3 linked regions of the Homo sapiens genome follow. Each later gene encodes a partner of the first gene's protein in a complex. Each region holds a gene or a part of one and is shown on either strand. Other genes may lie near its edges.

What was found.
Region 2: TUBGCP4 (region 1) and TUBGCP2 share a complex: the UniProt entries of both Homo sapiens proteins name them as parts of the gamma-tubulin ring complex.
Region 3: TUBGCP4 (region 1) and TUBG2 share a complex: the UniProt entries of both Homo sapiens proteins name them as parts of the gamma-tubulin ring complex.

What each region holds. Positions count from the first base shown.
Region 1 is NC_000015.10:43,392,281-43,402,592, reverse strand, and holds part of TUBGCP4 (gamma-tubulin complex component 4), read right to left. Parts: intron 7,487-10,312; coding exon 7,436-7,486; intron 7,011-7,435; coding exon 6,905-7,010; intron 5,380-6,904; coding exon 5,272-5,379; intron 4,556-5,271; coding exon of another isoform or gene 4,553-4,555; coding exon 4,414-4,552; intron 3,482-4,413; coding exon of another isoform or gene 3,466-3,481; exon of another isoform or gene 3,419-3,465; intron 2,550-3,418; coding exon 2,372-2,549; intron 878-2,371; coding exon 743-877; intron 1-742. UniProt on the Homo sapiens protein: Component of the gamma-tubulin ring complex (gTuRC) which mediates microtubule nucleation.
Region 2 is NC_000010.11:133,304,887-133,315,719, reverse strand, and holds the start of TUBGCP2 (gamma-tubulin complex component 2), read left to right. Parts: upstream 1-6,847; 5' UTR 6,848-6,897; intron 6,898-10,833. Other genes in the region: ZNF511 (zinc finger protein 511), read right to left, coding at 2,854-2,932, 3,879-4,004, 5,432-5,556, 5,743-5,944, 6,257-6,330, 6,624-6,776; ZNF511-PRAP1 readthrough, read right to left, coding at 3,879-4,004, 5,432-5,556, 5,743-5,944, 6,257-6,330, 6,624-6,776. UniProt on the Homo sapiens protein: Component of the gamma-tubulin ring complex (gTuRC) which mediates microtubule nucleation.
Region 3 is NC_000017.11:42,653,111-42,663,873, reverse strand, and holds the start of TUBG2 (tubulin gamma-2 chain), read right to left. Parts: upstream 4,591-10,763; 5' UTR 4,371-4,590; coding exon 4,322-4,370; intron 4,041-4,321; coding exon 3,928-4,040; intron 3,726-3,927; coding exon 3,558-3,725; intron 3,236-3,557; coding exon 3,167-3,235; intron 2,674-3,166; coding exon of another isoform or gene 2,647-2,673; intron 902-2,646; coding exon 822-901; intron 498-821; coding exon 371-497; intron 1-370. UniProt on the Homo sapiens protein: Tubulin is the major constituent of microtubules, protein filaments consisting of alpha- and beta-tubulin heterodimers. Gamma-tubulin is a key component of the gamma-tubulin ring complex (gTuRC) which mediates microtubule nucleation.

The sequences.
Region 1 (10,312 bases):
ACAGAAACACATACATAGATCGAGAGAGAAACACTACTCTAGTTGTCTATGAAAAGAACTTTCAAATGACTGATCCATCCTGGTCCAAAAGATTTCTAAGAAGGTGAACTCTATATGCTTTTCATTGGTTTTTCTGTATTGTCAGCAAGAATTTTGAGTTTCTTTAACTCCTGAGGGTTTAAGCACATAATTCTTTCATCTGTAGCTGCTCACCACACCCTGTATTTCAGAAATTCAAAGACATCTTAGGTCCCGTTTAACATGCCTTTTTAGTTTTGCTTTACACATTCTTTTTTTTTTTATCTGCTCCCCCAAGACAGAATCTTGCTCTGTTGCCCAGGCTGGAGTGCAGTGGAATGATCTTGGCTCACTGCAACCTCTGCCTCCTGGGTCCAAGCAATTCTCCTGCCTCAGGCCTCCCAAGTAGCTGGGATTACAGGCGCGAGCCACCACACCTATTATTTTTTTTTTCTTCTGTATTTTTAGTAGAGACGGGTTTTCACCATGTTGGCCAGGCTGGTCTTGAACTCCTGACCTTGTGATCCGCCCACCTCGGCCTCCCAAAGTGCTGGGATTACAGGCATGAGCCACCATGCCCCGCCGCTTTACACATTCTTAAAAAATGTTTTAAAATGGACTTGAATAATTGCTTAATGATGGTTTCGTATCCTGTCAACTCAAACTGCCTAAGGGAATGGTCAGTGGTAGAAGCAGTCTGAGGAAACCAATGAGCCTTACTTACAGGTTTCAATAGGATAAAGGATTGAGCCAGCAAATTGCTCAGGAAGTGGTCATGAGCCAATCGGATGCTTTCAAAGTCTCGGGTAGAATTGATCTGATGAAGCAGCTGGGAGAACTGAGACTCCAACACATCTACCTGATAGACATTACAAAAAATTTTAGCACTTTGCATATTCTAAGCACTCGAAGACATTAAGATGCCTGACAGATTGAAATGAAAATGCTTTGCCTCCACTCATCTTCCTTCTAACCAAGTCACATTAAGGCTGACCAAAGACACCCTTATATTGCCCAGCCTTGTAGGAAGTTATTTGCATAATTCTGAACCCCCTCCCTCCAACGTCCTGGCTGACCACTCTCCCCTGCCCCATCCTTTTCTCTTTTTCCTTTTTTTTTTTTTGAGACGGAGTCTTGCTCTGCCACCCAGGCTGGAGTGCAGTGGTGCGATCCTGGCTCACTGCAACTTCCACATACCAGGGTTCAAGCAATTCTCCTGCCTCAGCCTCCTGAGTAGCTAAGATTACAGGTGCCCGCTACCACGCATGGCTAATTTTTGTATTTTTAGTAGAGAAGGGGTTTCACTATGTTGGCCAGGTTGGTCTCGAACTCCTGACCTCAGGTGATCTGTTTGGCTCAGCCTCCCAAAGTGCTGGGATTACAGGTGTGAGCCACTGCGCCCAGCCTCCCCTGCCCCATCCTAATCCACTCATGGCCACATTCCGTCTACTGACTGACTTGGTCACCTACAGGATTCCAGAAGTTATAGCAAACAATAAAAATAAGGGGCAAGTCAACAATAAATAATAGATTGTTGATGAGGATTCTTTAAAATGCCTTTAAGAGGCTGGTGTGGCGGTGGTTCATGCCTATAATCCCAGCACTTTGGGAGGCAAAGGCAGGAGGATCATTTGAAGCCTGGAGTTTTTTTTTTTTGGAGACGGAGTCTCACTCTGTTGCCCAGGCTGGAGTGCAATGGCATGATCTTGGCTCACTGCAACCTCCACCTCCCAGGTTCAAGCGATTCTCCTGCCTCAGCCTCCCAGGTAGCTGGGACTACAAACAGGCGCCACCACGCTTGGCTAATTTTTTTGTATTTTTAGTAGAGATGGTGTTTCACCATGCTGGCCAGGCTGGTCTCAAACTCCTGACCTCAAGTGATCCGCCCATCTCAGCCTCCCAAAGTGCTGAGATTACAGACGTGACCCATGACACCTCGCTGAAGCCAGGAGTTTGAGACCAGCCTGGGCAACAAAGTGAGAATCCATCTCTACAAAAAATAAAAACAAACCAGCTGGGTGTGGTGGCATGTATCTGTAGTCATAGCTACTTGAGAGGCTGAGGCAGGGGGATCACTTGAGTCCAGGAGCTTGAGGCTTCAGTGAGCTATGACTGTACCACTGCATTCCAGCCTGGGAAACAGAGAAAGACCCTGTCTCTAAAAAATAATAAAATAAAATAAAATAAAATGCTTTTTTTATTTTAAGAAACATGCTTGGTGATATAACTCCTGAATTTTCCCAAACCCCACCATTTTATCAAATAGAAACTTGTAGTCCCTATTCAATACTCCCTGCCAACCTCCTAGACGTTTTTCCGTACCCCTTCCTTCTACTCATCTCTTAGCACAGACCTGGAGATAGTACTGAAGATTATCCACCAAAAATGCCATGTGATTTCTTAGGCGCCACTTGATTGCATCAGTCTGGTTCGACTTGAGGTGCTTGCGCTGCATTTGTAGGGCCCAGCAGTGCTGCAGCTCAGCTTGCACCCGGCGCACACTCAGTAAGTACTTAAAAACAACATTGTACCTAGGACAGAAATAACAGGATATTCAAGACAAAAATTTCATCCCCTGCACTTCCCCCACACGACAGACTCTAGGACTTTGTGCCACCCACTCCTCTCACAAACAGGCAGTAAGGAAAGAGTGACTAGAGATGTAGACAAATAAATTATAATTTATTTATACAATGGAATATTATATAGCAGTCGAATGAACTCCAGCTATACAACAAGATGAGACCCCATCTCTGCATTTTTTAGATAACTTGGGAAATTTCAGTGTGGACTGGATATTAGATTATACCCTTATAATCTTTTTGAATGGTTGACTCGTGTTGCTTCTCATATTCAAAAACATGATTTTTGAATGAAAAAGGTAAATCACAAAAGATTACATATAGCCTTTTCTATAATTCTTAAAGCAGGCCAGGTGTGTTGGCTCATGCCTATAATCCCGGCACTTTGGGAGGCCAAGGCAGGAGAATTACTTAAGCTCAGGGGTTCAAGACCAGCCTGAGCAACATAGTGAGATGCCATCTCTACTAAAAATTAAAAAAATTAGCCAGGTGTGGTGGTGCCCACCTATAGTCCCAGCTGCTTGGGAGGTTGAGGCAGGAAGATTGCTTGAACCCAGGGTTCAAGGCTGCAGTGTGCTGCCTGGGCAACAGAGCAAGACCCTGTCTCAAAAAAAATAGTGTGTTATGAATCAAGGATTATGATGAATCTGATTCTCTGTCGCTGAGAGCCGAAAGAAAGTAAAATAGCTTCCCTCTGAGACAGACTCCCGCTCCTGCCTCCCTGCAAGTTCAGGTGCTAACTGCTTAATGCTGAGACTCCATACTTAAAAGACACACGGGAAGAACAGCTGATTCCTGGTAGAATAGGATTTATTTACCTGTTTGTAGGTAGGCTTGCAGAAGACAGTCCCATTCTGTTTGGTTTTTAAAATTGTCTATTTCTAAAGGAACAAACATAATGAAATGATAGACCTTGTTTGGAAACTGATTTGAACAAACCCAAACATAAAGATAATTTTTAGATAACTGGAGAAATTTCAATGTAGACTGGATATTATAAGGGATTATAAGGGACTACTGTTAATTTTACTGGATGTGATAATGGCATTGTAGTTCTGTTGAAATATGCCTTTTTCAATTGTTTATTGGCAGAATGAAATGACTGTGATTTGCTTTATACAGCTCTAGCAAAAAAGTGGGGGAGGGACAGATAAAAGTAGTATAATGTTGCTGGTTACTGAAGGTGAATAATGAGGACACAGGATTTTGTCTTCTCCCCAGTGGCTAACATCCATAGCAGACATGTAGGCTGGAGGACTTTCCCAAGTAAATCAACAAAAAATATTACAAAAGTGAGGGAGAGACCTTGTCAGGTGTGATGGAATCATCAAGGGCCATTATCTCGACATGGTGCCTAAGACCTTATTTTCCAGAGCTCACAAACTGGCAGCCAACAAACTGCTTATTATTTGGCAATTTAAAAAAATGATGGTTTGAAGTAGATATGCCCTCCCACTGATTCCAACTCCGTGTCTCATATCTGTGGCTTCACTTATTAATGTGATCAGTCTAGCCCCTGAAGGCATAAGGGTTTACAATTTTTGATTTACAGATTGTTAAAAACTAGTTGGGTGGCTCTCTTGCTCCCATTAATTTTTTTTTTTTTTTTTATGAGATGGGGGTCTTACTATGTTGCCCAGGATGGATTTGAAATCCTGGGCTTAAGGGATCCTCCTGCTCAGGCTCTGGACTAGCTGGGATTACAGGTGTGTGCCACCACACCTTGCTTTCCCACTAATTCTGTTCCTGCTAGTTTCTTCCCTTACAAGTAAGGTGGGTCATATTTACCTGTGAGAAACTCAGAAATACTCACTTTTCCAGGACAGCTGGGGTGAAGAGAATATGTAGTGGCCACTGTACTTTGTAGGAAAGACCTAGGGCTGCCCAGCCAGATGCAGGGGCTTCCCGGGGAGAAGTTTCCCGAGAAGGCCCTTCTCTTGCCTGAGTAGCATCTGCTGTGATAAAAGAAAAGAAAAAAAGAAAAGATAACAACTTGGTTAATCTAGAACCAGAGACTCAACAAGTGAATAACATTAATGAAACTAGAGCTCACAGGAGTTCAAGACCAGTCTGGGCAATACAGTGAAACCCCATCTCTACTAAAAATACATAAATTAGCTGGGCATGGTGGCACGCACTTGTAGTCCCAGCTACTCAGGGGGGCTGAGGCATGAGAATTGTTTGAACCTGGAAGGCAGAGGTTGTAGTGAGCCAAGATTGTGCCACTGCACTCCAGCCTGGTCAACAGAGTGAGACTCTGTCTCCAAAAGAAAAGCAACAGAGCTCAATGGAGTCTGCGATGTCAGAAGCTTACAGGGGACACTAAGAAGGGGGCAAGGAAACTTCTATGTGAGGTTCTCTTGGGAGGTCTTCTAGAGATTCTTTCCTCAGCCTTAAAATCTGGGGGCTGGAAATAAACAGGCACCATTCCAGCAGCATGACAAAAAAAAACACCAAAAAAACCAACTCCCCCAAAACATGGCCTGGGCATCTCACTTAGCCTCTCTGGACTTCTGGACTTTCCTTTTCTTCTCTATAGAATTATAGTACTGTACTAGCTGATTTCTAAGATCCAAAATCATATGGTTTCTGTGGCGGGGGATGGAAGCAGAGATGGGAAAATGGATGATGACCAGCAGGAACTCTAAGGTGGCAGGGAGGAATGGCAAACCTTTGTGCTCCTTTCCGTGATACTCGATTGTCAAGTGCAACAGAGGGAGAAGGTTGTCATCATCTAGCAATACCTTGTGTGCTGACTGTTGAAAGGCCACATTCACATCTGCAAGAAAGAACACGCAGGCTGACAGGGACGCTTGGCTACATAACAAACCCAGACTCCTCCAGCTTTCCACTTCTCCCCCAACATGCTCAATGCTAACAGCAGGACACAGTGGACATCTGTTTCATTTGTCTAACACCCATCCATCCTTCTCTTCTTGCTGACAAACTGCCTCTTGATTTTCCTTGGAGAATCATCCCTATTCAGTACAGTTCACATATTTCCAGTGGGTTAGTGCTAGACAACACCTGATTCTAGGGGTAGCTGGGTGATGTAGGCATGATCAAATGGAATGTAATACTCTACTTTGTTATGCTATATTGTTTAGGGATATTAACATGACCAAGCCAGGCCAATCCAGAGGCTCTATTCAGACTCTAAAAGAGTCCAGCTCTTTTTTCAAGATAAACAGGGGCTTAGTAGGATGTAAACTTGGCTAGAGACTATCTTGCTACCATACAGAGCAGGCCTGTCTGAGAAGAAAGAGGTAGAAGATGGAAAGAGACCAAGTCCTAAAGGTGCCACACCTGTCACTGGATCAAACTTAGCCGAAAACCATCATACGTCTGAGCTTTTCAGTTATGAGAATCAATACATTATTTCTTTCCTTTTGCTTTGCTTAAGTGAGTTTGAATTGGATTTTCTGATATTTGCAACCACAAGTACTTATATTTGTACTATATAAGTACAGTGGACATCTATGGTTTTACTGAGTTAGAAAAATGATCAGCCTGTGTGTATGTATTTTCTTTCTCACAGTTTCTTTTTTTGGATCCTTACCCAACTCTACTCATGCAGTATGAATGGGAATGGACATCAGTGGGTCAAGGGGTAGACTCTTCACTGAACTAGGCATAGCCTAGTGTCTGACCTCTTTGACTGATACAGGGATAGGGATGTGATGTGGGCTGGGCCAATCAAAACCTAGATAATTCCCTAGAATTCTCTAACTTGCAACAAGAGGGACTGGGTTCAGTTCCTTCCGTAGAGGACACTGTGAGGCATATTCCTGGGAGATGCTGTGATCATGTTTCCAGAAGGTCATCAAAGTGTTCACAAGAGACACAAACAAGATGTGGTGAATGAGTGAATGAGAGAGAGAGAGAATGAATCGAAGTTTTCCCACTGGGGTTTTAGATACAATAGCAAATCCATTTCCCTTTCCTAACTAGGCTAGTTCGGGTGAGTTTCCATCATTCACACCTAAAGAATTCTACTGCAAAACTACAAGCAGCACTAAGTCCCAATATGGCCCATAAAGTATATATGGCTATAATCCAATGAGAAAAAATACCTGGTTTGAAGGCCTGAACCAACTCTTCCAGGAAGGGTCACAGGCCAAGACACTGTTCCCAATGACCCCAGCATGAAGCCTACCTGCAAGAGCCTTCCATCTCTGGAAGCCACTGCTCTGTAACTCATCAGGCTGCTCTTATGTGGAGCAGGCCTTAAAAGGGTCAGCAGCAGCCAAGAAATACCCTGCAATGTCAATCAGTTGATCATTCTCAGGGCCACTGACAATTACCATGCTCAGTTACTGCAGTGGGTGGTGTTTTCAACATGTGTTGAGCTGTGTCAATGAAGGCCTGAAACAGTTCTCCACGTCCCAGAAGGTAAAAGTCTTTAATGATCTGAGGAAAGAATTTCAATTTACAATTCAGTAAAGCAAGGCAGGAGCTCCTCACTGTCCTGAGGAATTACATGTATACAGTAATTTCTAATTTCATCAATTTGAGCCCAAGCTACAAAAGATACAGGCATTTGGCATTTCAAAGAGGCATACTTAGTTCCGCATAGCAGGATGACTGGTGTGTATTTGGCATTATTTATTCAATAGCAACATAATTATATATATATGCCAGAAAAAAGTACACTCCCAAATCTTTGTATTATCGTAGATTTGTGGCATTAGGTATAGTTTGCTCACTTGGATAAGAACAAATGAGTTGACTCTGGAAGTCTGGGTATAGGCAACCAGTGCTCTCAGGAAACATCAGAGAATGCAAGTCACTGCCTACCAGCATCACCGTAAGAATTACAACAGCTAAGCCATTACCTTCAGCTGACCCAGTAAATCGGATTCTTCTACCATCAACTTCCAGAGATGCTATGAAAACAACCAACAAAACAGGGACAAATTTCATTACAGTGAGAACTCCTGCAAAGAATGGTTCCATACAAATCCAGCAATGTATTAAAAGAAGACTATACCTTGCCCCACATAGAAAAATTTACTCAAAACAATCAATGTATTATTCCATTCTCACACTGCTGTAAAGAATACCTTAGACTGGGTAATTAATGAAGAAAAGAGGTTGAGTTGCTCACAGTTCTGCAGGCTGCACAGGAAGCACGGTGGCTTCAGCTTGGCTTCTAGGGAGGCCTCAGGAAACTTACAATCATGGCAGAAGGCAAAGGCGTCTCACATGGCAGGAATAGGAGCAAGAGAGAGCAAGGGGGAGGTGCTGCACACATTTAAACAGCCAGATCTCATGAGAACTTACTATCGTGAGGACAGTACCAAGGGGAATGGCGCTAAACCATTCATGAGAAACTGCTCCACGAACCAATCATCTCCCACCACGCCCCTACAACTCAAGAAATTTTGGCGGGGACACAGGTCCAAGCATATCAATCATAGACCTGGGTATAAAACTGAAAACTATAAAATTTCTGGAAGAAAAGAGAAGAGAAAATCTTAGTATCCTTGAGTTAGGCAGAGTTCTTAGACATAACACCAAAAACATGATCCATAAAAGAAAAACAAAAGGTAAACTGGATTTCATCAAAATTAACAACTTCTGGGACAAGTCATAAATTGTGAGAAAATAGCCCAGGCGTGGTGGCTCATGCCTGTAAATCCCAGGACTTAAGGAGGCTGAGGTGGGCGGATCACAAGGTTAGGAGTTCGAGACCATCCTGGCTAACACGCTGAAACCCCATTTCTACTAAAAGTACAAAAATTAGCCAGGCATGGTGGCAGGCGCCTGTAGTCCCAGCTACTTGGGAGGCAGACACAGAAGAATCACTTGAACCCAGGAGGCAGAGCTTGCAGTGAGCCGAGATTGCACCACTGCACTCCAGCCTGGGCAACAGGGCAAGACTCTGTCTCAAAAAAAAAAAAAAAAAATAGTGAGAAAATATTTGTAAGTCACATATCTGTTAAAGAACTTAAATTCAGAATACATAAAGGACTCTCAAAATTCGACAACAAGAAAACAAAAACCCAGTATAAAATAGGCAAAGAGGCACATGAAAAAATGTTCAACCTCATTAGTCATTACAGGCATGCAAATGAAAAAGACAGTGGGGAATCCCAGCATTTTGGGAGGCCAAGGTGGGCAGAGCACAAGGTCAAGAGATCGAAACCACATTTTGTTAATCGTAAATGTGGCACATATACACCATGGAATACTATGCAGCCATAAAAAATGGTGAGTTCATGTCCTTTGTAGGGACATGGATGAAACTGGAAACCATCATTCTCAGCAAACTCTCACAAGGACAAAAAACCAAACACCGCATGTTCTCACTCATAGGTGGGAATTGAACAATGAGAACACACGGACACAGGAAGGGGAACATCACACACCGGGGACTGTTGTAGGGTGGGGGGACCGGGGAGGGATAGCATTAGGAGATATACCTAATGCTAAATAACGAGTTAATGGGTGCAGCACACCAACATGGCACATGTATACATATGTAACAAACCTGCACATTGTGCACATGTACCCTAAAACTTAAAGTATAATAATAATAAAATTAAAAAAAAAAGAGATCGAAACCATCCTGGCCAACATGGTGAAACCCCATCTCTACTAAAAATACAAAAAACTGGCTGGGCGTGGTGGCGGGTGCCTGTAATCCCAGCTGCTCGGGAGGCTGAGGCAGGGGAATCGCTTGAACCCGGGAGACGGAGGTTGCAGTAAGCAGAGACCGCGCCACTGCACTCCAACCTGGAGACAGAGCAAGACTCCGTCTTAAAAAAAAAAAAAAAAGACATTGGGAAGCCACCCAAATATTTATCAAGGATGAATGGATAAACACACTGGTATAAACAATAGAATACTAGTAAGTAATATAAAGGAATAAACCATTGATAAATGCAACATGGGTTCATCTCAAAATAATTATGCTGAGTAAAAGAAGCCTGGTCTCCTCCTCCAAAAGAGTGCATACTGTATGATTTCATTTTTATCAACTCTAGAAAGTGCAGACTAACCTAGAGTGACAGGGAGTAGATCAGATCAGTGGCTGCTTGGGGACTGTCAGGGTAGGAAGAGTGGGATGAAAGCACACAGAAAGGTTGCAGATAAAGGATGGAAGAGTGTATCAGGTAAATATGATTTGAAAGGAAGCTGGATAGTGATCTTAGTAACTAACAAAATAGAATCTAAGTAAAGAATATATTAGGCCAGGTGTAGTGGCTCATGCCTGTAATCCCAGCACTTTGGAAGGCCGAAGCGGGCAGATCACTTGAGCTCAGCAGTTCGGGATCAGCCAGCACAACATGGCGAAACCCCATCTCAACTAAAAATACAAAAATTAGCCGGGCGTAGTGGCACATGCCTGTAACCCCAGCTACTCAGGAGGCTGAGGCAGGAGAATCGCTTGAACCCGGGAGGCAGAGGTTGCAGTGAGCCGAGATCACGCCACTGCACTCCAGCCTGGGTGACAGAGCAAAACTCCGTCTCAAAACAAAACAAAACAAAACAAACAAACAAACAAAAACCAGACCTGTATTAGTCCATAAAGAAACCTGCAATAGATTCCAAAGAAACAATATAATTCAGACTATGTTCTCCAACTATAATGCAATAAAATTAAAACAAATTCCTTGGTTAAAAAATCATAAACAAAATTAATTAGAATTATATAGAATATAATGAAAACACTACATGCCAAAAACTTGTGAGACACAGTCAAAACA
Region 2 (10,833 bases), on another chromosome or scaffold:
GAAACCCTGTATCTACTAAAAATACAAAAAGTAGCTGGGTACGATGTTGTGTGTCTGTAATTCCAGCTACTCAGGAGGCTGAGGCAGGAGAATCGCTTGAACTCAGGGGGCAGAGGTTGCAGTGAGCCAGGATGATGCCACTGCACTCCAGCCTGGGCAAGAAGAGCGAGCCTGCCTCAAAAAAAAAAAAAAAAAAAAAAAAAAAAAAAAAGAAGAAAGAAAGAAAAGAAACATGAGTATCTTCTTAGAAACGGATGCAGCCCACGTACAGTTATGATGCTGGCTTTGAAACAAAACAGTAACATTCTTCATACCGAAGTTTTACACTCCCCACTTGTCAGAAGAAAAACTGAGACAGAATAAACAAATCGCTTCCAGGCAGAGATGAAGCTAGGATTGGAAGCCAGGACCAACAGTCCCCGAAGGGTATAGAACAGTCCTGCTGTGAACAAAAGAGTTTTAGCAGAATCTGCTGTTGTGGAAAGGGCTAATACATCCTCGTGGAGCGCTGCCGCCAGGGCTGTGCTGCTGGCCTTGTGCAGGGAGCTCACGCAAGAGCCAGAGGATTCAACGGGCTGGGGCAGGATCTTCTCAGGGAGATGGAGAACCAGCAGTAAATCTGCGTGTTTGCATTTTTCTTGTGTTGTGCTTTCTCAAGCAGCCGACAGGCCCCGGGCGGCCCCACCACAGCCACCCTCGGCCAGTGCTCATCTCCCACCCCACACATGTGCGTGTGAAACCTCTCTTCACTGATGCACCCAGGCCTGGGCTTCAGGCTTTAGTGTCTTCCCTTGAGTGCTTGGGAACCTGCCTTCAGTTTTCAGAGCACGAAGCACTGTGCCATGTCAGCTCTGAACCTGAGGCCCTTGAGATTCCTTGACTCCAGGTTGCTGGAGAGCTCTCAGCATCATCCTGTGGAGCTGGGCAGCAGCTGCAGATGACCACCCACTGCCTCCAGCCAGACCCAGAGCCCCAAAAGGAGTGGGCTGTGAGGCAATGCCAGGGGCAGGGGGCCAGGAGCACACCAGTCACATGAAGGGACCAGCCCCACAGGGTCTGTGTGTTTTTCTCCCCGTGTGCAGAGACAAGAGATCGTAGAAATAAAGACGCAAGACAAAGAGATAAAAGACAGCTGGGCCCGGGGGACCACTACCACCAAGACGCGGAGACCGGTAGCGGCCCAGAATGCCAGGCTGCACTTTTATTGGATAGAAGACAAGGGGGCAGGGTAAAGAGTGTGAGTCATCTCCAATGATAGGTAAGGTCACGTGTGTCACGTGTCCACTGGACAGGGGGCCCTTCGTCATTTGGCAGCCAAGGCAGAGAGGCAGAGAGAGAGAGGCAGCTTACGCCATTACTTCTGCATATCAGAGACTTTTAGTACTTTCACTAATTTTGCTACTGCTATCTAAAGTGCAGAGCCAGGTGTACAGAATGGAACATGAAAGCGGACTAGGAGTGTGACCACTGAAGCACAGCATCACAGGGAGACGGTTAGGCCTCCAGATGGCTGCGGGCGGGCCTGACTGATATCAGGCCTTCCACAAGAGGTGGAGGAGTAGAGTCTTCTCTAAACTCCCCCAGGGAAAGGGAGACTCCCTCTCCCAGTCTGCTAAGTAGCAGGTGCTTTTCCTTTGCACTGACGTTACCACTAGACTACGGTCCGCTTGGCGACGGGCATCTTCCCAGACGCTGGCGTCACCGCTAGACCAAGGAGCCCTCTGGTGGCCCTGTCCGGGCATGACAGAAGGCTCACACTCTTGTCTTCTGGTCACTTCTCACTATGTCCCCTCAGCTCCTATTTCCGTATGGCCTGGTTTTTCCTAGGTTATGATTGTAGAGTGAGGATTATTATAATATTGGAATAAAGAATAATTACTACAAACTAATGATTAGTGATACATATATAATCATATCTATGACATATATCTAGTATAACTCCTGTTATTTTATATATTTGTTATACTGGAACAGCTCGTGCCCTCGTTCTCTTGCCTTGGCACCTGGGTGGCTTGCCGCCTATATCACATGCTGTGGGAACAGGGCCGCTGGAGGAAGACGTGGTCGGGAGTCTCTGAGCGCCCTAATTTTATCAAAACAGAGTGATTTCTCCAGGACACACTGCCCCCAGTGTATCTCTGCAATCCAATGCCAGCCCCAATCTCCTGGCCTGCATTTCCTGATGCAGGCTCTGTGGTCCCCGCTGGCACTAGTGATGGATCCTGCACCCTCTGGGGCAGCACCCCCCACTCCCCCAGCATCCCACACACCCCCAAGCACCCCATGCCCCCAGAGCCAGTGCCCCTCCCTGTGGGCATCAGATCCTACCCCCACCAGGTCTACTCCCTAAGTGGTGTGGCAAGGACAACTGGGTGTGGCTCCCAAAGCCAGGAGGTCCGGGACGAGGTGGAGTGCTGTATCCTACCCCATCACCCACCTCTGAGGGGTGCCAGGACTTTATAAATCTTCCTGAAAACTGAGGGTGGAAAACAGAATACCCATGGGTAACAATAACCACTCCGCACCTGACTCAACACAGAAATGAAGACTCAAGACCATCAGTGAAAAATACTTATTTCATGTGTTTAAAAATACATTCTTAGGGTGGGCCCTGCAGGAGGAGACAGGCCGTCCACATCTCCTTCCCAATAGTGTGTCCAGGTCGTTTCCAAAATCTGTGGGTCCCTCACAGCTTCTGATGACAGCTGCTAATGCCATTTGCTGAGGAACAAGGATGGGGAGGATGGCGAGGGCCTGGCCCCCAGGGCGGCCACACCAGAAGGTCGGAGAAAGGCCCAAGGCGGATGCCACGCCCAGCAGTGGTGACTGCCCCCCACTCCTTTTCTGAGTCTATCAGCATTGTTTGGTTTTCTTCTTGTTGCTTTTAAATCCTCGAGCGGCACCCTGACCAAAGCAGATGGTAGAGGGTATTCTGGGATGGAAGAAAGTTTCTATTAGATGCTGTATTTGCCAACCAACAACCCAGGTCATAACAGCACTTGTGTGTCTCCTTCTCATTCTCTTTCACTCTGGGAACATGCGGAATGCAGAGCCGGCCCTCCTGGGCCCTGGGGCAGCTCCCTTTCCACAGCCTGAGACCTAGTTCCTGTGGGGGGTCCCCGCCAGCCACCAACGCACACCCGCTGGGAAGAACTCCGCAGAGAGGGCGGCTCCTGCCAAGCCCTCTGGGGCTGAGACTTCCTGCTACCCCATGTCCATTCCATGAAAACCCCTACTGTCCCAGCCCCCCGGGGCTCATTCACAGGCCAAAGTCCAGGCATCTGTAAGGAGGGTGCAGGGAACATTAAGTTCATCGTTCCACCTGTTTGGAGTCTTTGGTGATGTTTTTCCCCACTTGTTCACCGTTTTTCCCAAATTAATTTAAAATCAACTTTAACTAGAAAGGCAGACGGCACAGGTGACGCTAGAAAGGCAGACAGTACAGGTCATGCTAGAAAGGCAGACGGCACAGGTCATGCTAGGAAGGCAGACGGCACAGGTGACGCTAGAAACGCAGACGGCACAGGTGACGCTAGAAACGCAGACGGCACAGGTGATGCTATTAAGGCAGACGCCTGGGTTGTGACTGAAGCAACTGCAAGTGAGACTCTTTCCATCCCACTCAGACAATGAGGAAAAGTGAGTGGTGCTTGGCATTCCTGCGCTTCAATGGCTCAAAAACAGAGTATGCGAGAGAAACTAAGTTATTCACAGGACCTGAGATATCTGGACTTTCTTCTCTGGCGGAAGCCGATTTTCTTACCCAGCGTTACCTTTCTGAATTCAGTATGAGAAGAGCTGCGGCCCAGGTGCAGCCCAGAATCCTCAGCACCGAACACATGTTGAGAACGGGTTTCAGAAAGAGCTCAGACACTGACCTATGTCTGTAGATCCGCCTCTCACCTGCCGGTGCAGGGGAGGCTGCCACAGGCTCAGAGCAGATTTCCATGGCCTCCCCTTCTGACCGCTCTCCACTGTCCCCTGGGGCTTCTGCTGAGGCTGGGCTGCGGGGAGAGAGCAGTGAGTAACTGCCCTGCACGGCTCCCACAGCCCCTGTGTTCCCCAGAAATGAACATGCAAGAAAGAAACTGGATTTCCCTGTAAGTAGCATATTTTCTTACTATTTTGGCATAGTCTGATTTTATAGTGTGGTTTAAGATACTGGGAAAAGGAGAATGATTACAGCAAGGCCATTGTTTATATAATAGAGTCTGCATCTTATAAACTTAACTGTAACAATCATACTTTTTTTTGAAAATAGTATTTTTATGGTGCCAACGGTGCCACGGGTCTTTTTATGAGTGTGAGAAATTTGCTAAAGTTAACCAGAGACTATAAACTAGTCTCTTCCATAATACGAATGTCTTAATCCAGCATTGCACGGTTTTTCTCCTTAAAATGATCCCTCGGAAAGGAGACAATTACTTTACACGTAAGTCTTTGTAAAGCCTCCCACATTGCAGTGGGTTCTCCCAGTTCTTTTATTTTAAAGAGCAAATTACTACTTGAGAAAATGTAGAGTCTGAAAAACTCTGATCAATAAAATTGTAGATGATTATGAAAGTTCACCTCATCAGTTAAAAAAAGAAGAAATATAACACAATTTAAAAATTGTTCCGGCTGGACATGGTAGCTCATACCTACAATCTCAGCACTTTGGGAGGCTGAGGCAGATGGACGGCTTGAGCCCAGGAGTTCACGACCAGACTGGGCAACATAGCAAGACCCTGTCTCTACAAAAAATAGAAAATTTTGCCGAGTGCGGCGATGCGTGTTGGTAGTCCTAGCACTTTAGGAGGCTGAAGTGGGAGAATCGCTTGAGCCTGAGAAGTGGAGGTTGCAGTGAACCTACATCACACCACTACACTCCAGCCTGGGTGTCAGAGCAAGACCCTGTCTCAAAAAAAAAAAAAGATTGTTCCTGGAAGTATTTCCCAGAGTGCACTCTAGGCAGGAACATGTTAATCAACAGCTTTGTCATCAAGTTCATATGCGCACAACCAACCAGGACAAAAGGAAAGCCAGGGCTGCATGATGTGTGAGCACGGCCGACGGCTGCAGGAGGTACAGACACGGCCCCGAGGGGTGTGAGTGCGGATGACCACGGCCGACTGCTGCAGGAGGTACAGGCATGGCCCAGAGGGGTGTGAGTGCGGAGGCGCTGCGCCCGCTCATTCCCACACCCCCTCTGCTGCCTCCACCGGCACAGAGCTGGGCAGCCAGGGGCTCCCCTCCAGCCTCCCTTCGGCAGGGTGGCCGCTGGCACAACCACCTGTAGCTGTGTTGCCAGGGCTTCAGGTACCTGCAGGTGAACACCCCATTAGGTGACACACAAGTGCTTAATAAGTCTGACCGTCTATGCATTCCGGCTAGTTGGAAACCTTTTCCTAAAATCAAAAGCAGACACGTGCTGAGCCTGGCGGCTCCCTACCTTCTGCTTTTCTTTGGCTTATCAAACCGGAAGTCCGCGGGGTACAGGTGCATCCTCACCATGTGATCCTTCCGGTCTCTGCTGGTCTTGAACTTCTCTGTGCAGCCTTCTACCAAGCACTGATACTGAAATGGAGACCGTGTCACCTCCCTCTGACCCCTGGCCCTCCCCCACCGCCATGCCCCCGTAGCAGAGCTGCCAAGGGCGGAAAGGTGTCCCCGGCCTTGCCCGAGCACCCGAGAGCTGGGGGCAGCACTCTGAGCCCATCACCAATGGGGGGTGGCCTCGGCGGCTGTGCAGTTGTCACCCACCATGTCCTGCCTCTCAGACAGGATCTGGAAGAGCGAATCGTGCCACTCCAGGATGTGGGCGTCCAGCAGGTGTCCGGAAGGGAAGGCCCGCTTGCAAAAGGAGCAAACATTTCCGTGCAGCGTGTGGTAGTGGTGCTCGTAGTCGTCCAGGGCATCGAACACCTGGCAGCAGCCGGCCACCTGGCAGGCAAACGCGGGCACCCTGCCAAGGAGACGTGCTTCAGGAGCCCTTCCTCCGGTGCGAGGAACCAAGCTGGACTTTCTGCACAGTTTCCCTTTGAGACGTCCAATAAAGCCCCTATGCATCTTTTGCAATCCCAAACCCTCTTTTTATGAATTAAGTTTCACAAACAGGCTAGGTGGTGGAAGAGTCGGCCACGCCAAAGCTGGACAGGCACAGCGCCTCGGTGGGGCGGCCGCACATGGAAGAGCGGCAGCACAGCCCCAGGGACCAGGCACCGGTCAGGGAGGCGGCGCAGGAGTAGCACTGGCTAGGCACTGCCCATTCGCTTACCTGGGCTTCTCAGGCACGTCGGCCACCTGCATGATCACGTCCTGGAGGTAGAGGTGGCGCTGCACGTCCCCATCCTGCAGGAAAAGTGCGCCGTGGGCGGGGCCAGGTGACTCGCGGCACGCCCACCGCGTCAGGCCTCGCCCACACCCGTGGCCCCAGTCATCCCGCGCTCCGGTCCCGCCCCACAGCCTCAGGCCCCGCCCACTCCACGTTCCGGCCCCGCCCCACCACCTCAGGTCCCGCCTGTCCCAGGCTCCGGCCCCGCCCCGCAGTCGTAGGCCCCTCCCACTCCAGGCTCCGGCCCCGCCTCGCCGCCGTAGGCCCCACTGGATCCTACAACTACTTTTTCCCTCTTTTGCTCACGCACCTCGAAGAACTGGTGCTCCCGCGGGAAGCGCACGGGGCGCGCAACGAAGCGAAAGGGCGCGGCCCCAGCCGCGGGATCCCGCTCTACAGGCAGCGGCTCCGCCGCCCCGGGCCCCGCAGCGAGGCGGGCGCACAGCGCGGGGGGCAACTGCATCACCCCGGGCGCGGGCGGGCGCAGCCTGTCGGCCACCGTCCGCGAGCCGAGCCGGACGTGACGTCACGCTCACTTCCGCCGCCGTCGGGGGCTGCGCGGGGGCTGTGGCTCCGGGACTGCGGTGAGTCCTGGCCGAACGCGGGCGCGGGCGTGATGAGGGGGTTGGGGGACTGCCAGGCCCGGGGGGGCCCACGAGGCGACGGGGCTGGCGGGACGCGGCTCTTCCCGCGCGCTCCCTCTGGCTGTGCAGCGGTCCCCGAACTCTGGGGCCGAAGCCCTTCGGGCCTGCACCGGCCAGGCCAGCGTCTTGCCCCGCGGCCCGACACTCAGCCGGGGCGGGGCGGAGCGGGCCTCCGGGTCGTCCCGGGTGTCCCCTCCCAGCCCTGGGAAGCCGGGTCGCAGGTCCCCCTCTCGCACGCCCTCTCCCGTCCGCCTTGCCCCGCCTGTCGTCTCCCGCTGCAGTCCCTGGATCTTGTTCCCTCTAAACCAGTCGCGAACTGGAGCCAAAGTGACTCCAGTTTTATTGTAACCGTTTTTAATTTAAAGCCCTTGGGTGACTTCCCGTTACTTTAGTTCAAAGGCCCTTTCCTGGTTTGTCGGGGTCCTGTCGACCTCTCCAGTCCCCGCAGCTCCCGTGAAACACAGGACCTGTGCTAGGTGCTCAGGGCGTGTGGGGGAAGGCATCACAGGAGGGCGCGGCAGCCTTGTAGGAGAGACAGACGTCAGAGTAAAGAGTCACCTAATTAAAATGGTGAATGACAACACACGCGGGAAGCAGTGGACGCTTCAGATCTACTGCAGAGAATGGGCCCAGTGGCGGATAGAGGCTTTAGCTTTCTCGTCTGTCACCCAGGCTGGAGTGCAATGGTGCGATCATAGCTGATAGATCGCTGCGGCCTCAAATTCTTGGGCTCAAGTGGTCCTGCTGCCTCAGCGTTCCAAAGAGCTGTAACTGCAGGCGTGAGCCACCATGCCTGCCCCTGTACTTTTTCCATGTTTAGATACACAAATATCTCTGTGTTACAGTTGTCTAGTGTTCAGCACCGCCACCTGCTGGGCAGGTTTGTAGCCCACGAGCAAGAGGCTCCTCTAGGTGGTTTAGGTGCATTGTAGGCCGTACACCATCCAGGTCTGCGAGTGACTCTGATGATCGCACAGAAGGAAATCATGTAACCATACGTTTCTCTTTTTTTCTTTTGGAGATAGTGTCTCTCTCTGTCGCTCAGGCTGGAGTGCAGTGGCGCGATCTGGGCTCACTGCAACCTCTGCCTGCTGGGTTCAAGCGATTCTCGTGCCTCAGCTTCCCAAGTAGCTGGGATTACAAGTGTGCGCCACCAGGCTTGGCCAATTTTTGTATTTTTGGTAGAGACTGGTTTTCACCATGTTGGCCAGGCATTTCTCAGAATGTTGAGTGATGCATGACTGTACTTTCTGTCTCTGTAAAAGCCTTTGGGCTCTTGACATTTTCCACAAGTTGTAAAATAACATTTTTCAAACCAATTTGTACAGTTAGCTTTGAGCTCTCAACAGAGACTCTTTTTCACGTCCCTCTGTGTTTTAATCACTTGGAGTGTGTGCTCACTAGGAGTGTGTGCCCCGCTTGTCCGTGGTGGAGTGTGACATGCGTGCATTGCTTCCCTCAGCACGCGTCCCTGCGGTAGCTCACAGCCTCTGTGAGGAGGACGTCAGTCCCTCCCAGTCACAGTTGCTGGGCCTGTCAGTTTGTGTGATTAATAGTAAGAATTCAGGAGCATCAAGAAGGCCAAGTCAGCGGCCATGGCTAGACGTTCCTCCAAGAAGCAGCCACGGCTAGATGTTCCTCAGAGCTGTGTTTTCAGTGGGACGCTGTGCATTTCTGGCGGGACAGCTCTGTTGATGATTAGCATCCCCCGCCCTTGCCCTCTAAGTAGCGAGAGCACCCTTCCATGACCGTGACACCCCAGAGTTGCCCTAGGACTTTTCCAAAGGTCTTCTGGGGGGAGGGACTCTGTGCGAGTACGGGCTGCCCTCTTGGAGGCCCGGTCCCCACATTCAGGGAGAGCAGCAGGCTCCTCATGGGATGAACACTCATGACGTGCGGGCATCTGTGCTTCTATTTCTAGAAGAGATACGAAGTTTCCTGAAGGTAGTTTTTATTTTTTTTATTATTATTTTTTGAGACAGAGTCTCGCTCTGTTGCCCAGGCTGGAATGCAGTGGTGTGATCTTGGCTCACTGCAAGCTCCGCCTCTCGGGTTCATGCCATTCTCCTGCCCCAGCCTCTGGAGTATCTGCGACTACAAGCGCCCGCCACCACCCCCGGCTAATTTTTTTGTATTTTTAGTAGAGATGGGGTTTCACCATGTTAGCCAGGATGGTCTCGATCTCCTGACCTCATGATCCGCCCACCTTGGCTTCCCAAAGTGCTGAGATTACAGGCGTGAGCCACCGTGCCCAGCATGTAGTTTTTAAATAAATACTCAGATGATTTTTCTTCATAGGTAGCTTTCTCTCCTGACTTGTGTCTGGTGGGGGAGTGCTTTGTTTTGGTGGCAAATGGTTTTCTTGCCACCTAGCATGACCAAAGTGTTTCTCAGACCAGCAGTTATAGGACAACCTGCAGTCCTCGGGGAGCCGAGTAGAATGTGGGTGAAACAGGCCACCCTTGGATTTGAAGGGGCCGCTGGCCGGAAAGTTTGGGCTGTCTTTTCTGCTTCACAAGTAGTTTGCAGGGCCTCGTCCAGGGCTCCCATGACTGTTAAAAAAGCATCTGGTAGTTTAAGATGTTGTCAGTGATTGGGACCCAATTTTCCTTTTGTAAACCTAACCATTTCCCAGATAACAGAGTTAACACCTCCAGGGAGCAATGGTGCCGCATGTTTGTTTCTGCTTTCCTGGTAACAACAGTGTAAGAACTTACCACGTATGGGCCCTTCTGTGCTTTCTCAGGGTGATTTCACTTCTCTCTACCACAGCTCTACGCAGGACCTAGGGCTTCCCCTTTTCAGAAGAAGCTTGGAGAGGACGTGTCCTTGTTCAGGGTCCCACAGCCTAGAAGTAGCCACGTCAGTGTCCAGACTGCATGGGGCTCCATGGCGCGTGCCCTGCTGGCCTTGTGCTTGAACTGTAGTTACCGTGAGCACCTCCTGGGTCAAAAGCATGTGTGTGAGCAACTCAGCACCATGCCTTCTTATCGCTCTCCTTCCATTTTCGGAGATACCCTGCCTGTGACCAGTATTTGATGTTCATCTACAGATAAACTGTCTTCCATCACACAGGATTAGAATCTCGGTGTCGAGTCCCGTGCTAATAATCGTTAGTGAATTAGCATATTGTGGGAGTATGTGCTGAGTCTTCTGTACTCTATTGTAGGGACCAGCCCCACAGGGTCGGTGGGTTTTTCTCCTCGTGTGCGGAGATGAGAGATTGTAAAAATAAAGACGCAAGACAAAGAGATAAAAGAAAAGACAGCGGGCCCGGGGAACCACTACCACCAAGACGCAGAGACCGGTAGTGGCCCCGAATGCCTGGCTGCGCTGTTATTTATTGGATACAAAGCAAAAGGGGCAGGGTAAAGAGTGTGAGTCATCTCCAATGATTGATAAGGTCATGTGTGTCATGTGTCCACCAGACATGGGGCCCTTCCCTGTTACGTAGCCGAGGCGGAGAGAGAGAGGACAGCTTATGTCATTATTTCTTCTATGTTCTTTTCAGAAAGATCAAAGACTTTAATACTTTCACTAATTTTGCTACTGCTATCTAGAGGGCGGAGCCAGGTGTACGGGATGGAACATGAGAGCAGACCAGGAGTGTGACCGCTGAAGCACAGCATCACAGGGAGACAGTCAGGCCTCCGGATAACTGCGGGCGGGCCTGACTGATGTCAGGCCCTCCACAAGAGTTGGAGGCGTAGAGTCTTCTCTAAACTCTCCGGGGAAAGGGAGACTCCCTTTCCCGGTCTGCTAAGTAGCGGGTGTTTTTCCTTGACACTGACACTACCGCTAGACCAAGGTCCGCTTGGCAAGGGGCATCTTCCCAGACGCTGGCATCACCGCTAGACCAAGGAGCCCTCTGGTGGC
Region 3 (10,763 bases), on another chromosome or scaffold:
CCTCCCAGGTTCAAGCAACTCTCCTGCCTCAGCCTCCCGAGTAGCTGGGACTACAGGCATGCGCCACCACGCCTGGCTAATTTTGTTTTTTTAGTAGAGATGGGGTTTCTTCATGTTGGTCAGGCTGGTCTCGAACTCCCAACCATAGGTGATCCGCCCGTCTCAGCCTCCCAAAGTGCTGGGATTACAGGTGTGAACCACCGCACCCAGCTCTAATTTTTGTATTTTCTGTGGAGATAGGGTTTCACATGTTGCCCAGGCTAGTATTGAACTCCTGAGCTCAAGCAATCCATCTGCCTAGGCCTCCCAAAGTGCTAGAACTACAGGCATGAGCCACCACACCCAGCCCCTCAACTCTTTCTTTGCTCACCACACAATCTGCGTTCTGCGTCAGCCTCTTGAGTGTCAGGAGTGAATTGTAGGGCTGAACCACTACGTCGCTCATCTCGTCCTGGTAGGGAAACACTGAATAAGTCTGCACTAGCTTCTTGGGGTACCTGAGAGAAAAGAGGATGGTGGCATAGTGAACCGGAAGGACCCCTCCATCACTGCCCATATGTGCCATTTTGTACAAAAGGGGTGAGGGCAGAACTGAGTCTTCAGAGCCAAAAAGGATAAGCCTGAAAGCTTCAAACTCTGTAGATCCCCTCCCCTCCACAGGTAAACCCCCACCCCCCAAAATAGCTTCCAACATGGTCCTTGGGTGGGTCTGTCCCTATGACTCAAAAGGGGTAGTGGCAGACTTTCTAGCTCAAGAGAAAAAAGCAATGACATTACTCAGGGAACCAGGGTTAATGCCCTCTCCCCAAACACAGGCTTGCCTGTCATTCAGTCGCTCCAGGAGGTAGGAGCCCAGGCCAGAACCCGTACCCCCAGCGATGGAGTGACACAGCACGAAGCCCTGTGTGTATACAGGAATAAACAGACTCAGTTTCTCCTGCCACACTCTCACAACACAATTCTGATACCAGATGGGTGGGGTCTTACCACACACATCAGGTAAGCAGTCAATTCTACAGTAGATGCCAGCTGGGTATCCACTAATTCACTTCAATTCTGGACTACCTACAGACTGTCCCTGACTTAGGATGGTTTAATTTAAGATGTTTTGGCTTTATGATGGGTTTATCAGGACATAATCCCATCTTAAATCAAGAAGCATCTGAATTACAATGGTTCAATTTACAATTTTTCAACTTCATGATGGGCTTATTGGGTTATAACCTGATGCATTTCTACTTACGGTATTTTCAATTTTTTTTTTTTTTGAGACGGAGTCTTGCTCTGTCACCCAAGCTGTAGTGCAATGGCCCGATCTTGGCTCACTGCAACCTCTACCTCCTAGGTTCGAGCCATTCTCCTGCCTCAGCCTCTCAAGTAGCTGGGACTACGGGCATGTACCACCACGCCTGGCTAATTTTTTTATTTTTCGTAGATACGGGGTTTCACCATGTTGGCCAGGCTGGTCTTGAACTCCTGACCTCAAGTGATCTGCCCGCCTCGGCCTGCCAAAGTGTTGGGATTACAAGCATGAGCTACCGCACCTGTCCTCAAATTTGTTTTGGTTTTAGAGACAGGATCTCACTCAGTCCCCCAGACTGCAGTGCAGTGGTGTGATCATAGCTCACTGCAGCCTTGAATTCCTGGGCTCAAGGCATCTTCCTATCTCAGCCTCCAAGTAGCTTGGACTATAGGCATGTACCACCATGCCTGGATAATGTTTGTATATTTTGCAGAGATGGGGTTTCACCATGTTGCCCAGGCTGGTTTTGAACTCCTGGGCTCGGATGATCCACCTGCTTCGGCCTCCCAAAGTGCTGGGATTACAGGCATGAGCCACTGTGCCTAGTCAATATTTTCAATTTGTGATGTGTTTACATCCTGATAAACCCATTGTAAGTTGAGGAGTATCTGTACCTGAAGATAGCATCAGATCCCACAGAGTGAAGGCTCAGTCCCACAAGACTCTCCCACTTCCAATGCCAACACAAGCTTCAGGTTGTTTTATCTGTGCCTCTGACCAACCAGCTATAAATCGAGGTTCTCAGGACTGCTCCTTGGGTTCAATTAATTTGTTAGAGTAGCTCACAGAACTCAAGGAGACACTTACTTACGTTCATCCATTTGTTATAAAGGATATTTTAAAGGATACAAATAAACAGCCAGATGAAGAGATACCGAGGGGAAGCTCTAGAAGGGTCCGGCGCATAGGAGTTGCTGCCCTGTGGCGTTGGGTTTGCACCCTCCTGGCCTGTGGATGTGTTCTTGTTCACCTTCCTGGAAGCCCCCAAACTCAGTCCTTTTGGATTTTTATGGAGGCTTCATTACACAGGCATGACCGATTAAATCATTGGCAATTGGTGCTCTACTCAATCTTCATCCCCTCTCCCTTCCCCAGAGGTGAGGGGTGGGCCTGTAAATTCCAACCCTCAGAGCACCAGGTTTGTTCCCCTGGCAACCAGCCCCCCATCCAGTGGCTATCTGGGACTTTCCAAAAATCGCCTCTTTAACATAAGCTCAGGTTTGGTTGAAAGGCACTTGTTCCTCCTTAGTACAGTGGTTAGTAAAATTAACTAATTAAAATAAAATGAAAGATTAAACTAAAAGAAACGGGCTTGTTATAAATAACAAAAGACTGTCTTTCACCTTTATCACTCTGGAGCTGTTCTGGAGCTGTTTCAGAAACCAAGGACAAAAGGTCAAATATTTTAACAAAACATACTATTATTGCTCTAGTCCCTTAGGAAATTACATGGGTTATAAGAGCTGTAAGCCAGGAACATATCGCACCCAGCATGGGGAGAGATGGAGAGGCAGTCTCCAAGGATCTGGGGGAGAGACTTCGGCTTGGTTCATTCTCCATTCCCAAAACGCCAATGTCTCAAAGCTTCCTCTTATGCATCCAGGCTGAGGCTCCTTGGGAAGGTTTGGAGCTGGAGAAGCAGCTGAATGACTCATGCCTAAGGGGCCGGTGCCATTCAGATTTATGACTTCCTTGAGAACAAAGATTATATCTTATTCACCTCAATATCCCACATCTGATGCTCCATAAACGGGTTTTGAATTGAATTGCTCCCCTCATATTACCTATCCAGGCCACCTCCTGACCTGTCCCCAGCACTCTTCGGCCTCCCTGCCCATTCCTTCCCCCACTCCATAACTTCACCTCCAAACTGTCACTTCCATCTGCTTCTCGGTCTATGATGTCAAAGATGTCTTCATGAATTTTCTCACCCTGTATAGAGATATGGAAAGGGAGGGTCAGGCCAAAGGTTCCAGAGAGCATCTTTTCTCAGCACAGCACCAAGAATTCTGTCTACCCTGGAATATTGTTGCCACCCTGAAGCAGAGCCTAGGCTGTAGCCCTCAACCCAGAAGTGCTACTATTGCAAATGATTTGCACAAAATTTGCATAAACCTCTCCCTGGCTGTCCCTCTTGTTCGGGACATCCTTTTGTCTCTTATTTTCTGTCAGTCAGGTCAAATTCCTAGTAGCTTGAGCCTGCCTTGCCTCTGGATGGGAATATCAAAGGTCTCTGGAATGGTCGCTAGGACACCTGGGAGAATCCGCTGGCCCAGTTGTTGCCAGCTCCTCCTCCATGTTCCGACAGGTAGATGTTCTCTGGGTTGTAGAGCTTGGCATAGGGGGAGTTGAGGATGGAGTGGATCACCCGGGGTTCCAAGTCCAGCAGCACGGCCCGGGGGATGTAGTGCTCATCGTCTGCCTGTCAAGGGGAGTCCAGGAGGGGGCCCAATCAGCTAGGGCGGCCCAAGTCCGAAGTCCTCCCAACTCTGGCTCCCTCCGGCCCTCCCTCCTCAAGCCAGCCGCCTGGCCCTACTGCCCAGCGGGGTTCCCAGTACCAGGCCACTCCCTTCCCTTCCGCCCCCTTGGGCCACTGCCGCCCCCGGCCAAGTCGCTGGGGGCACCTGGTAGAAAAAGACGTCCTTGCGGTCAGTGCCCTCGGTGGCGAATTCCTCCACGATGCCCTCGGGGCTGATACCATGCTCGGCGCACAGCTGTTTCCAGAACTCGAACCCAACTGGGGGAGGGGGGAGATGCCCGGGTCTGCTGGAGCCTTAAGGCCTGAGGAGCCCAGTTTTAGTCTCAGAGGCTGACACGATCAGAGGGTGGACCCAAGATGCCTGGGTTTGGTAGCTGCCCCAGCCCCGGGCTGGAGGCGCAGCTCTCGGTCTGGGTTATCCAGAGCAGCAGGGCAGGGGGTTCATGGAAGGGAAAGGGGGACTGGTGGAAGCCAGGCACTTGGGTGGGACCCGAAGGGGCAGAACCAGAGACCGGCGGGGCCGGCGCTCGCTTGCTCACTCTGGTTGCCGCACTGGCCCAGCTGCAGGGTGATGATCTCCCGGGGCATCGCTCTTCAGACGTGGGCGCGCCAGCCCCGGCCTGGCGAGAGTCACGGCTGAGACGAATGCCCGGCAGCCAGGAGCGCAGGACGTGGGGAGCGCGCGCTCTCTTCGCCTCTTGACGCGGATGCTCGGTCTGCGCGTGTGCAGCGCAGGCCTCTCCTCGGCCGGTGGGCCGGGGAGCCCAACCTGGGCATCATTTTCTCCCTCAGCAGTCGCAGCTGGAATTCCGCACAGGCGCAGAGTCAGGCCACGCCCGCTCCTGCCCACCGCTCCGCGCCTGCGCAGTGAGACTCGTTGGGGGTGGCAGGGTCGGAACCTGGATGTGTTGGGGAGGAGAGGAACGGGGGAGGGGAGGAAAGGGGAGAAGCGGCCAGGTGGATGTGCTTGTCCACGTGTAAGGAGTCATCTACCTATATTGGTAGGTGAGGACACTGTCAGCTTTGCTAGATCAAAGGGCTAGAAGCCAACTTTTCTTCGTTTAAATTTCTGTTTTTTAATGGTGTTACAATACATACACATGTATGTTACCTTTTTATTTTTTAGAAGGGTCTCGCTCTGTCGCCCAGGCTGGAGTGCAGTGGCGCGATCATAGCTCACTGTAGCCTTGAACTTCTGGCTTAAGTGATCCTCCCACTTCAGTCTCCCGAGTAGCTGGGACTACAGGCGTGTGCTACCACGCCCAGCTAATTTTTAAATTTTTAAAATGTATTTTTATAGAGATGGGGATCTCACCGTGTTGCCCAAGATGGTCTTAAACTACTGGCCTCAATCAATCCTCCTGCCTTGGCCTCCCAAAATGCTGGGATTACAGGCATGAGCCACCACTCCTGGCCTAAATTTACCATTGTAACCATTTGTAAGTACTGCATACAGTTCTGTGGCACCAAGTACACTCACATTGTTCTGTAACCACCACCACCATTCTTTTCTAGAACTTTCTTATCTTCCCAAACTGAAACTCTATCGCGATTAAACAGTAACTTCCCCTTGACTACTCTAGGCACCTGATATGAGTGGAATTATACAGTATTTGTCTTTTTGGGTCTGGCTTCTTTCACTTAACATAATATCTTCAAGATCCTTCCATTTCGTAGCATGTGTCAGAATTTCCTTCCTTTTTACAACTGAATAATATTCCATTGTATAGATGTACCACATTTTGCATAACCATTCATCCCTCCATGGACATTTGGGTTGCTTCCACCTTTTGGCTATTGTGAATGTTGCTGCTTTGAATGTGAGTGTACAAATATCTGTTCGAGTCCCTGCTTTCAATTATTTTGGATATACACCCAGAGGTAGAATTGCTGGATCATATGGTAATTGTGTTTAATGTTCTGAGGAATCGCCATACGATTTTCCATGGTAGCTGCACCATTTTAAATTCCCACCAGCAATGCACAAGGGTTCAGTTAAATAAATTTTATAGGAGGCCATTGATTTGCACTGAGCTCCTGTGCTTGGCTCAACAGACCAAACCAAAATGGAGTCACTCACGCTAAAGTTCTATGTCACTAAGCAACACTAAGTTGTTTATCAAACCTTCAGAGGAATCAGGAGAGGGAAGGAAGAGCCAAAACCCCAAACAAGCCAGTGTGAGCCGGCATGATACGGAAGTCCTTTTACAAGAAAAGTAACTTTGAAAGGACCCATCTGCTTTTTTTCCTTCTGTTTCTATTTTTCTCTACCCTTTTTTGTCCATAAAAACTAACCTGTGCTTGACTCATCTGAACACTCATTCTATTTATTTTATGGAATGAAACGTAGCCTGATCTAGAATCACAAACACTGTAAATGCCACTTAAGATTTTTTTTTTTTTTTGAGACTAAGTCTCACTCTGTTGCCCAGGTTGGAGTGCAGTGGCATGATCTCGGCTCACTACAACCTCTGCCTCTCTCAGGTTCAAGCGATTCTCCTGGCTCAGCCTCCCTAGTAGCTGAGATTACAGGTGTGCACCACCACACCCGGCTAATTTTTTTGTATTTTCAGTAGAGACAGGGGTTTTGTCATGTTGCCCGGACTGGTCTCGAACCCCTGAGCTCAGGTAATCCACCTGCCTCAGCCTCCCAAAGTGCTGGGTTACAGGCATGAGCCACCATGCTCAGCCAAGTAGCCAAGTTACAATCTTTTTTTTTTTTTTTTTTTAGATGGAGTTTCGCTCTCGTTGCCCAGGCTGGAGTGCAATGGCTCGATCTCAACTCACCGCAAGCTCCACCTCCCGGGTTCAAGCGATTCTCCTGCCTCAGCCTCCCAAGTAGCTAGGATTACAGGCATGCACCATCACGCCCAGCTAATTTTGTATTTTTAGTAGAGACGGGGTTTCTCCATGTTGGTCGACCTCATGTGATCCACCTGCCTTGGCCTCCCAAAGTGCTGTGGGATTACAGGCGTGAGCCACCACGCCCAGCCTTTTTTTTTTTTTTTTTTTTTTGAGACGTAGTCGCACTCTGTAGCCCAGGCTGGAGTGCAATGGCTTGATCTCAGCTCAGTGCAACCTCTGCCTCCCAGGTTCAAGCAATTCTCCTGCTTCAGCTTCCCAAGTACCTGGGATTATAGGCACGCTCCACCATACCCTGCTAATTTTTGTATTTTTAGTAGAGACGGGGTTTCATCATGTTGGCCAGGCTGGTCTCAAACTCCTGACCTTGTGATCCCTTCCAAATGTTGGGATTACAGGCGTAAGCCACCGCACCCAGCCTCTGAGACTTTTTATGCAGCCTTGGAATCCTGGGCTCAAGCGATCCTTCCACCTCAGCCTCCTGAGTAACTGGGACCACAGGCACATGCCACCATGCCAGCTAATTTTTTTTTTGAGACAGAGTCTCTTTCTGTTGCCCAGGCTGGAGTGCACTGGCATGATTTTGGCTCACTGCAACCTCCACTTCCCGGGTTCAAGTGATTCTCTTGCCTTGGCCTCTTGAGTAGCTGGGATTACAGGCATGAGCCACCACGCCCGGCTAACTTTTGTATTTTTAGTAGAGACAGGGTTTCACCATGTTGGCCCGGCTGGTCTTGAACTCCTGACCTCAGGTGATCCACGCGCCTCGGCCTCCCAAAGTGCTGGGATTACAGGTGTGAGCCACCATGCCCGACCTTTACAGTGACTTTTCTACATTCCACCAGGCTGGCTGTTCCCTCAGGAATAATCTCCTGTGTGTCTGAATCATATATACCCAACTGTGACTAGAATGGTGAACTGTGAGTCCTGCATCAACCCAAACATGCTCTTCCACTCTGCATACTGCCCCTAAATTAGTCACTCTCAGAATCCATTTTAGTAAATGTTCCTCAGGAAGCTGATGATACTGATCTATGAAATGGAACAATTCCTCCACACTCTACTGTCTGGTTTCGATAATTACTTGGTTCCTTCACATTGACTACCTTCTTGGTAACCACAGGTCTCAGAGGTACTTTCTGTTGTCCCTGCATAATTTCCTCCTTTGTGGGTGACTCCGAGGCTAGTGGCCTGAGCTCAGCCAGACCCACATCTGTGCTTGGTCCAGCCTCAATTCCTAACCCAGCACCCTCTTTTACTTTCATTTTAGCCATTATAGATAACAATAATCAGGGGGCTGAATATTTCACATTTTTCTTATTAGTTTGCATTTCCTTATGCATTCAATGAACCAATTCCTGGGAGTTGGATCCATCTCTAAATTCCACTAGTAAGTTTTACCTTTAGTAACTGATCTCAACAGAGTTGTGGCTTCACACCATGGTGACCACGTGGTCACCCAGGAATTGACGACCTCTTCCTCCACCCTTTTATCCTTTTTCTTCCCAAACCACATGTTTATGTGAGTCAGGGCCATTCCTGCAAATCCCACTTCACTGACACCAATTGTTTAGAGAAAACTGTAACCATTTCCTCTACTCTCACACCACAGCAATCATCCACACAGATTTCTGTGACCATACACATGGGGCTTTTGTTCCCCACCCAGCAGTGGACACCAGCTGGGTGTCCTTTAATTCAGTTCTAACACCATCTACCCAGAGACAGTGTCAGACCTCATAGGTTGAGGGCTTAGTCCCCAAGACTGCCTCCCTGCCCCGCACCAGTCCCAAGTCTGGGCCTCCAGAACTTCTGACCAGCAGGCTTTAAGTTGGGGTTCTCATGACCCCCTCTTTGGGTCCAATTGATTTGTGGGAGCAGCTCACAGAACTCGGGGAAACACTGACAATTACTGGTTTATTAGAAACCATATTGCAGGCCTAGTGTGGTGGCTCATGCCTATAATCCAAGCACTTTGGGAGGCCAAGGCAAGTGCATCGCTTGAGGTCAGGACTTCGAGACCAGCCTGGCCAACATGGTGAAACCGTCTCTACTAAAAAAAAAAAAATTAGCCAGGTGTGGTTGGTGGGTGTCTGTAATCCCAGCTACAAGGGAGGCTAAGGCAATGAGAATCGCTTGAACCCTAGAGGTGGAGGTTGCAGTGGGCCGAGATGGCGCCACTGCACTCCAGCCTGGGTGAAAGAGCAAGATTCCATTTGAAAAAAAAAAAAAAAAAGCCAGCATATCGCAAAGGATACAGATGAAGAGACACGGAGGGTAAGGTATGAGGGCAGGGGTGTGGAGCTTCCATGCCCTCTCTGGGTGCTCCACCCTCCAGGAACCTCCAGGTGTTCAGGCATCTGGAAGCTCACTGAACCCTGTCCTCTTGGGTTTTCATGGAAGCTTTATGGGAGGGTCTTAAGGCCCACAGTCAGAAAGGCCCAGGAAGGTTAGAGTGAAAGGAGTGCAGGAGAAGGTCAGATACTGCCCCTGAGGGCTAACACACTCAATATTATAACAAAAGACTAACAAGGACTATGAGAGTCATGAGCCAGGAGCTGTGGACGAAAACCAATATGTATCATAACACCATACCATCTTTAAAAAAAAAAATAGAGATGGGAGTCTCGCTGTGTTGCCCAGGCTCATCTCGGACTCCTGGGCTTCCTGGGCACAGTGGAACAGCCTGTAATCCCAGCACTTTGGGAGGCCGAGGCGGGAGAATCGTTTGAGGCCAGGAGTTTGAGACCAGCCTGGGCAGTATAGTGAGACCTCATCTCTGCAAAAAAAATTGTTTTAATTAGCCAAGTGTGGTGGTGGTGCCTTTAGCCCCACCCAGCTCCTTGGGAGGCGGAGGTTGCAGTGAGCAGAGATCCCGCTGCCACTGCACTCCAGCCTGGGCAAGAGCAAGATGCCTTGTCTCAAGAAAACAAAAACAAAAACAAAAACTCCCGGGCTCAAGCGGTCCTCCCTCCTCCGCCGCCCAAAGTGCTGGGGTTACAGGCGTGAGTCCCTGCGCCCGGTCCATACCATCTTTTCCTTTATGTTTTGCACGTTTTATACTTTGTTAGAGAAAACATCCCCTATCCCAGTGTCATACAGCTATCTTTCCGTTTTCTTCCCAAAGCTCTGTAATAGCGTTGCTTGTTCCCTGTAGGTCTCTAGTTCATCTGGAATTTATTTGGAGGCCTGCCGTCAGATAGGATCTACTTTATCTTTTCCGTATGGATGGCCAATTGTCTCCAAACCAATTACTGAAGAGGCGGTGCAGCCTCCCCCACCCCCTGGGGCGTTCCAAGTCTTCGCTGGGAAGACCTTTCCGTCGGTCTGTCAGTCTGTCCCTGCCTGGCGGGCTTTCTCTGGGAACCGCTGCAGACGCGCTGGCGAAAGCACCACCGCCAAGAGTCATGCTCAGACGAGAGATTTTGTTTTCTTCTCTCTCTCTCTCTTTTTTTTTAAAGAACTCGGCCGCTTTCCAGTCCCCAGAATCCTCTGGGCTTCTTGAGAAGTCTCTGGCTCGCCCCACGCCCGCCCTCTACCCGGCCTCGGCTCAGTTTCCCTCCCCGCACCCCGCAGAGCCTCTCAGCTTCCTCCAGCTCTGGTCGGGAGGATCTCCAGCGTCCCCCAAGAGGACCCAGTAGTCTCGCCCTTTCAGGGAAGGGTTCTTTTCTCCCTCTGAAGTTGAAGGGTAGGGTGGGAGCTCCTTCGTTAGCCTTGAGGCTCCCTTCCCCCAACAGAACCGCTCCTTAGGGGCTGGCTGTTTTCAGAGGCTTTGCCAGGACTGTCTCCCAGTCGGCCCAGGTGAAGCGCATGGCTTCAAGAGATGAGAATAAACTGACCCCCGGCCACGTGAGTCTGGTAGGGCTTTTACATAGTAAGCTAATGCCGGGCGCGGTGGCGCCATCTTGTAGTCCCAGGTACTTGGGAGGCCCAGGCGAGAGGATTGGTTGAGCAGAAGAGTTTGAGCCCAGACTGGGCAACATAGCGAGACCCCCATCTCTAAAAATAATAATAATAATTAGCCGGGTATGGGGGCTCACGCCTGTAATCCCAGCACTTTGGGAGGCCGAGGCGGGCGGATCACTTGAGGTCGGGAGTTCGAGACCAGCCTGGCTAACA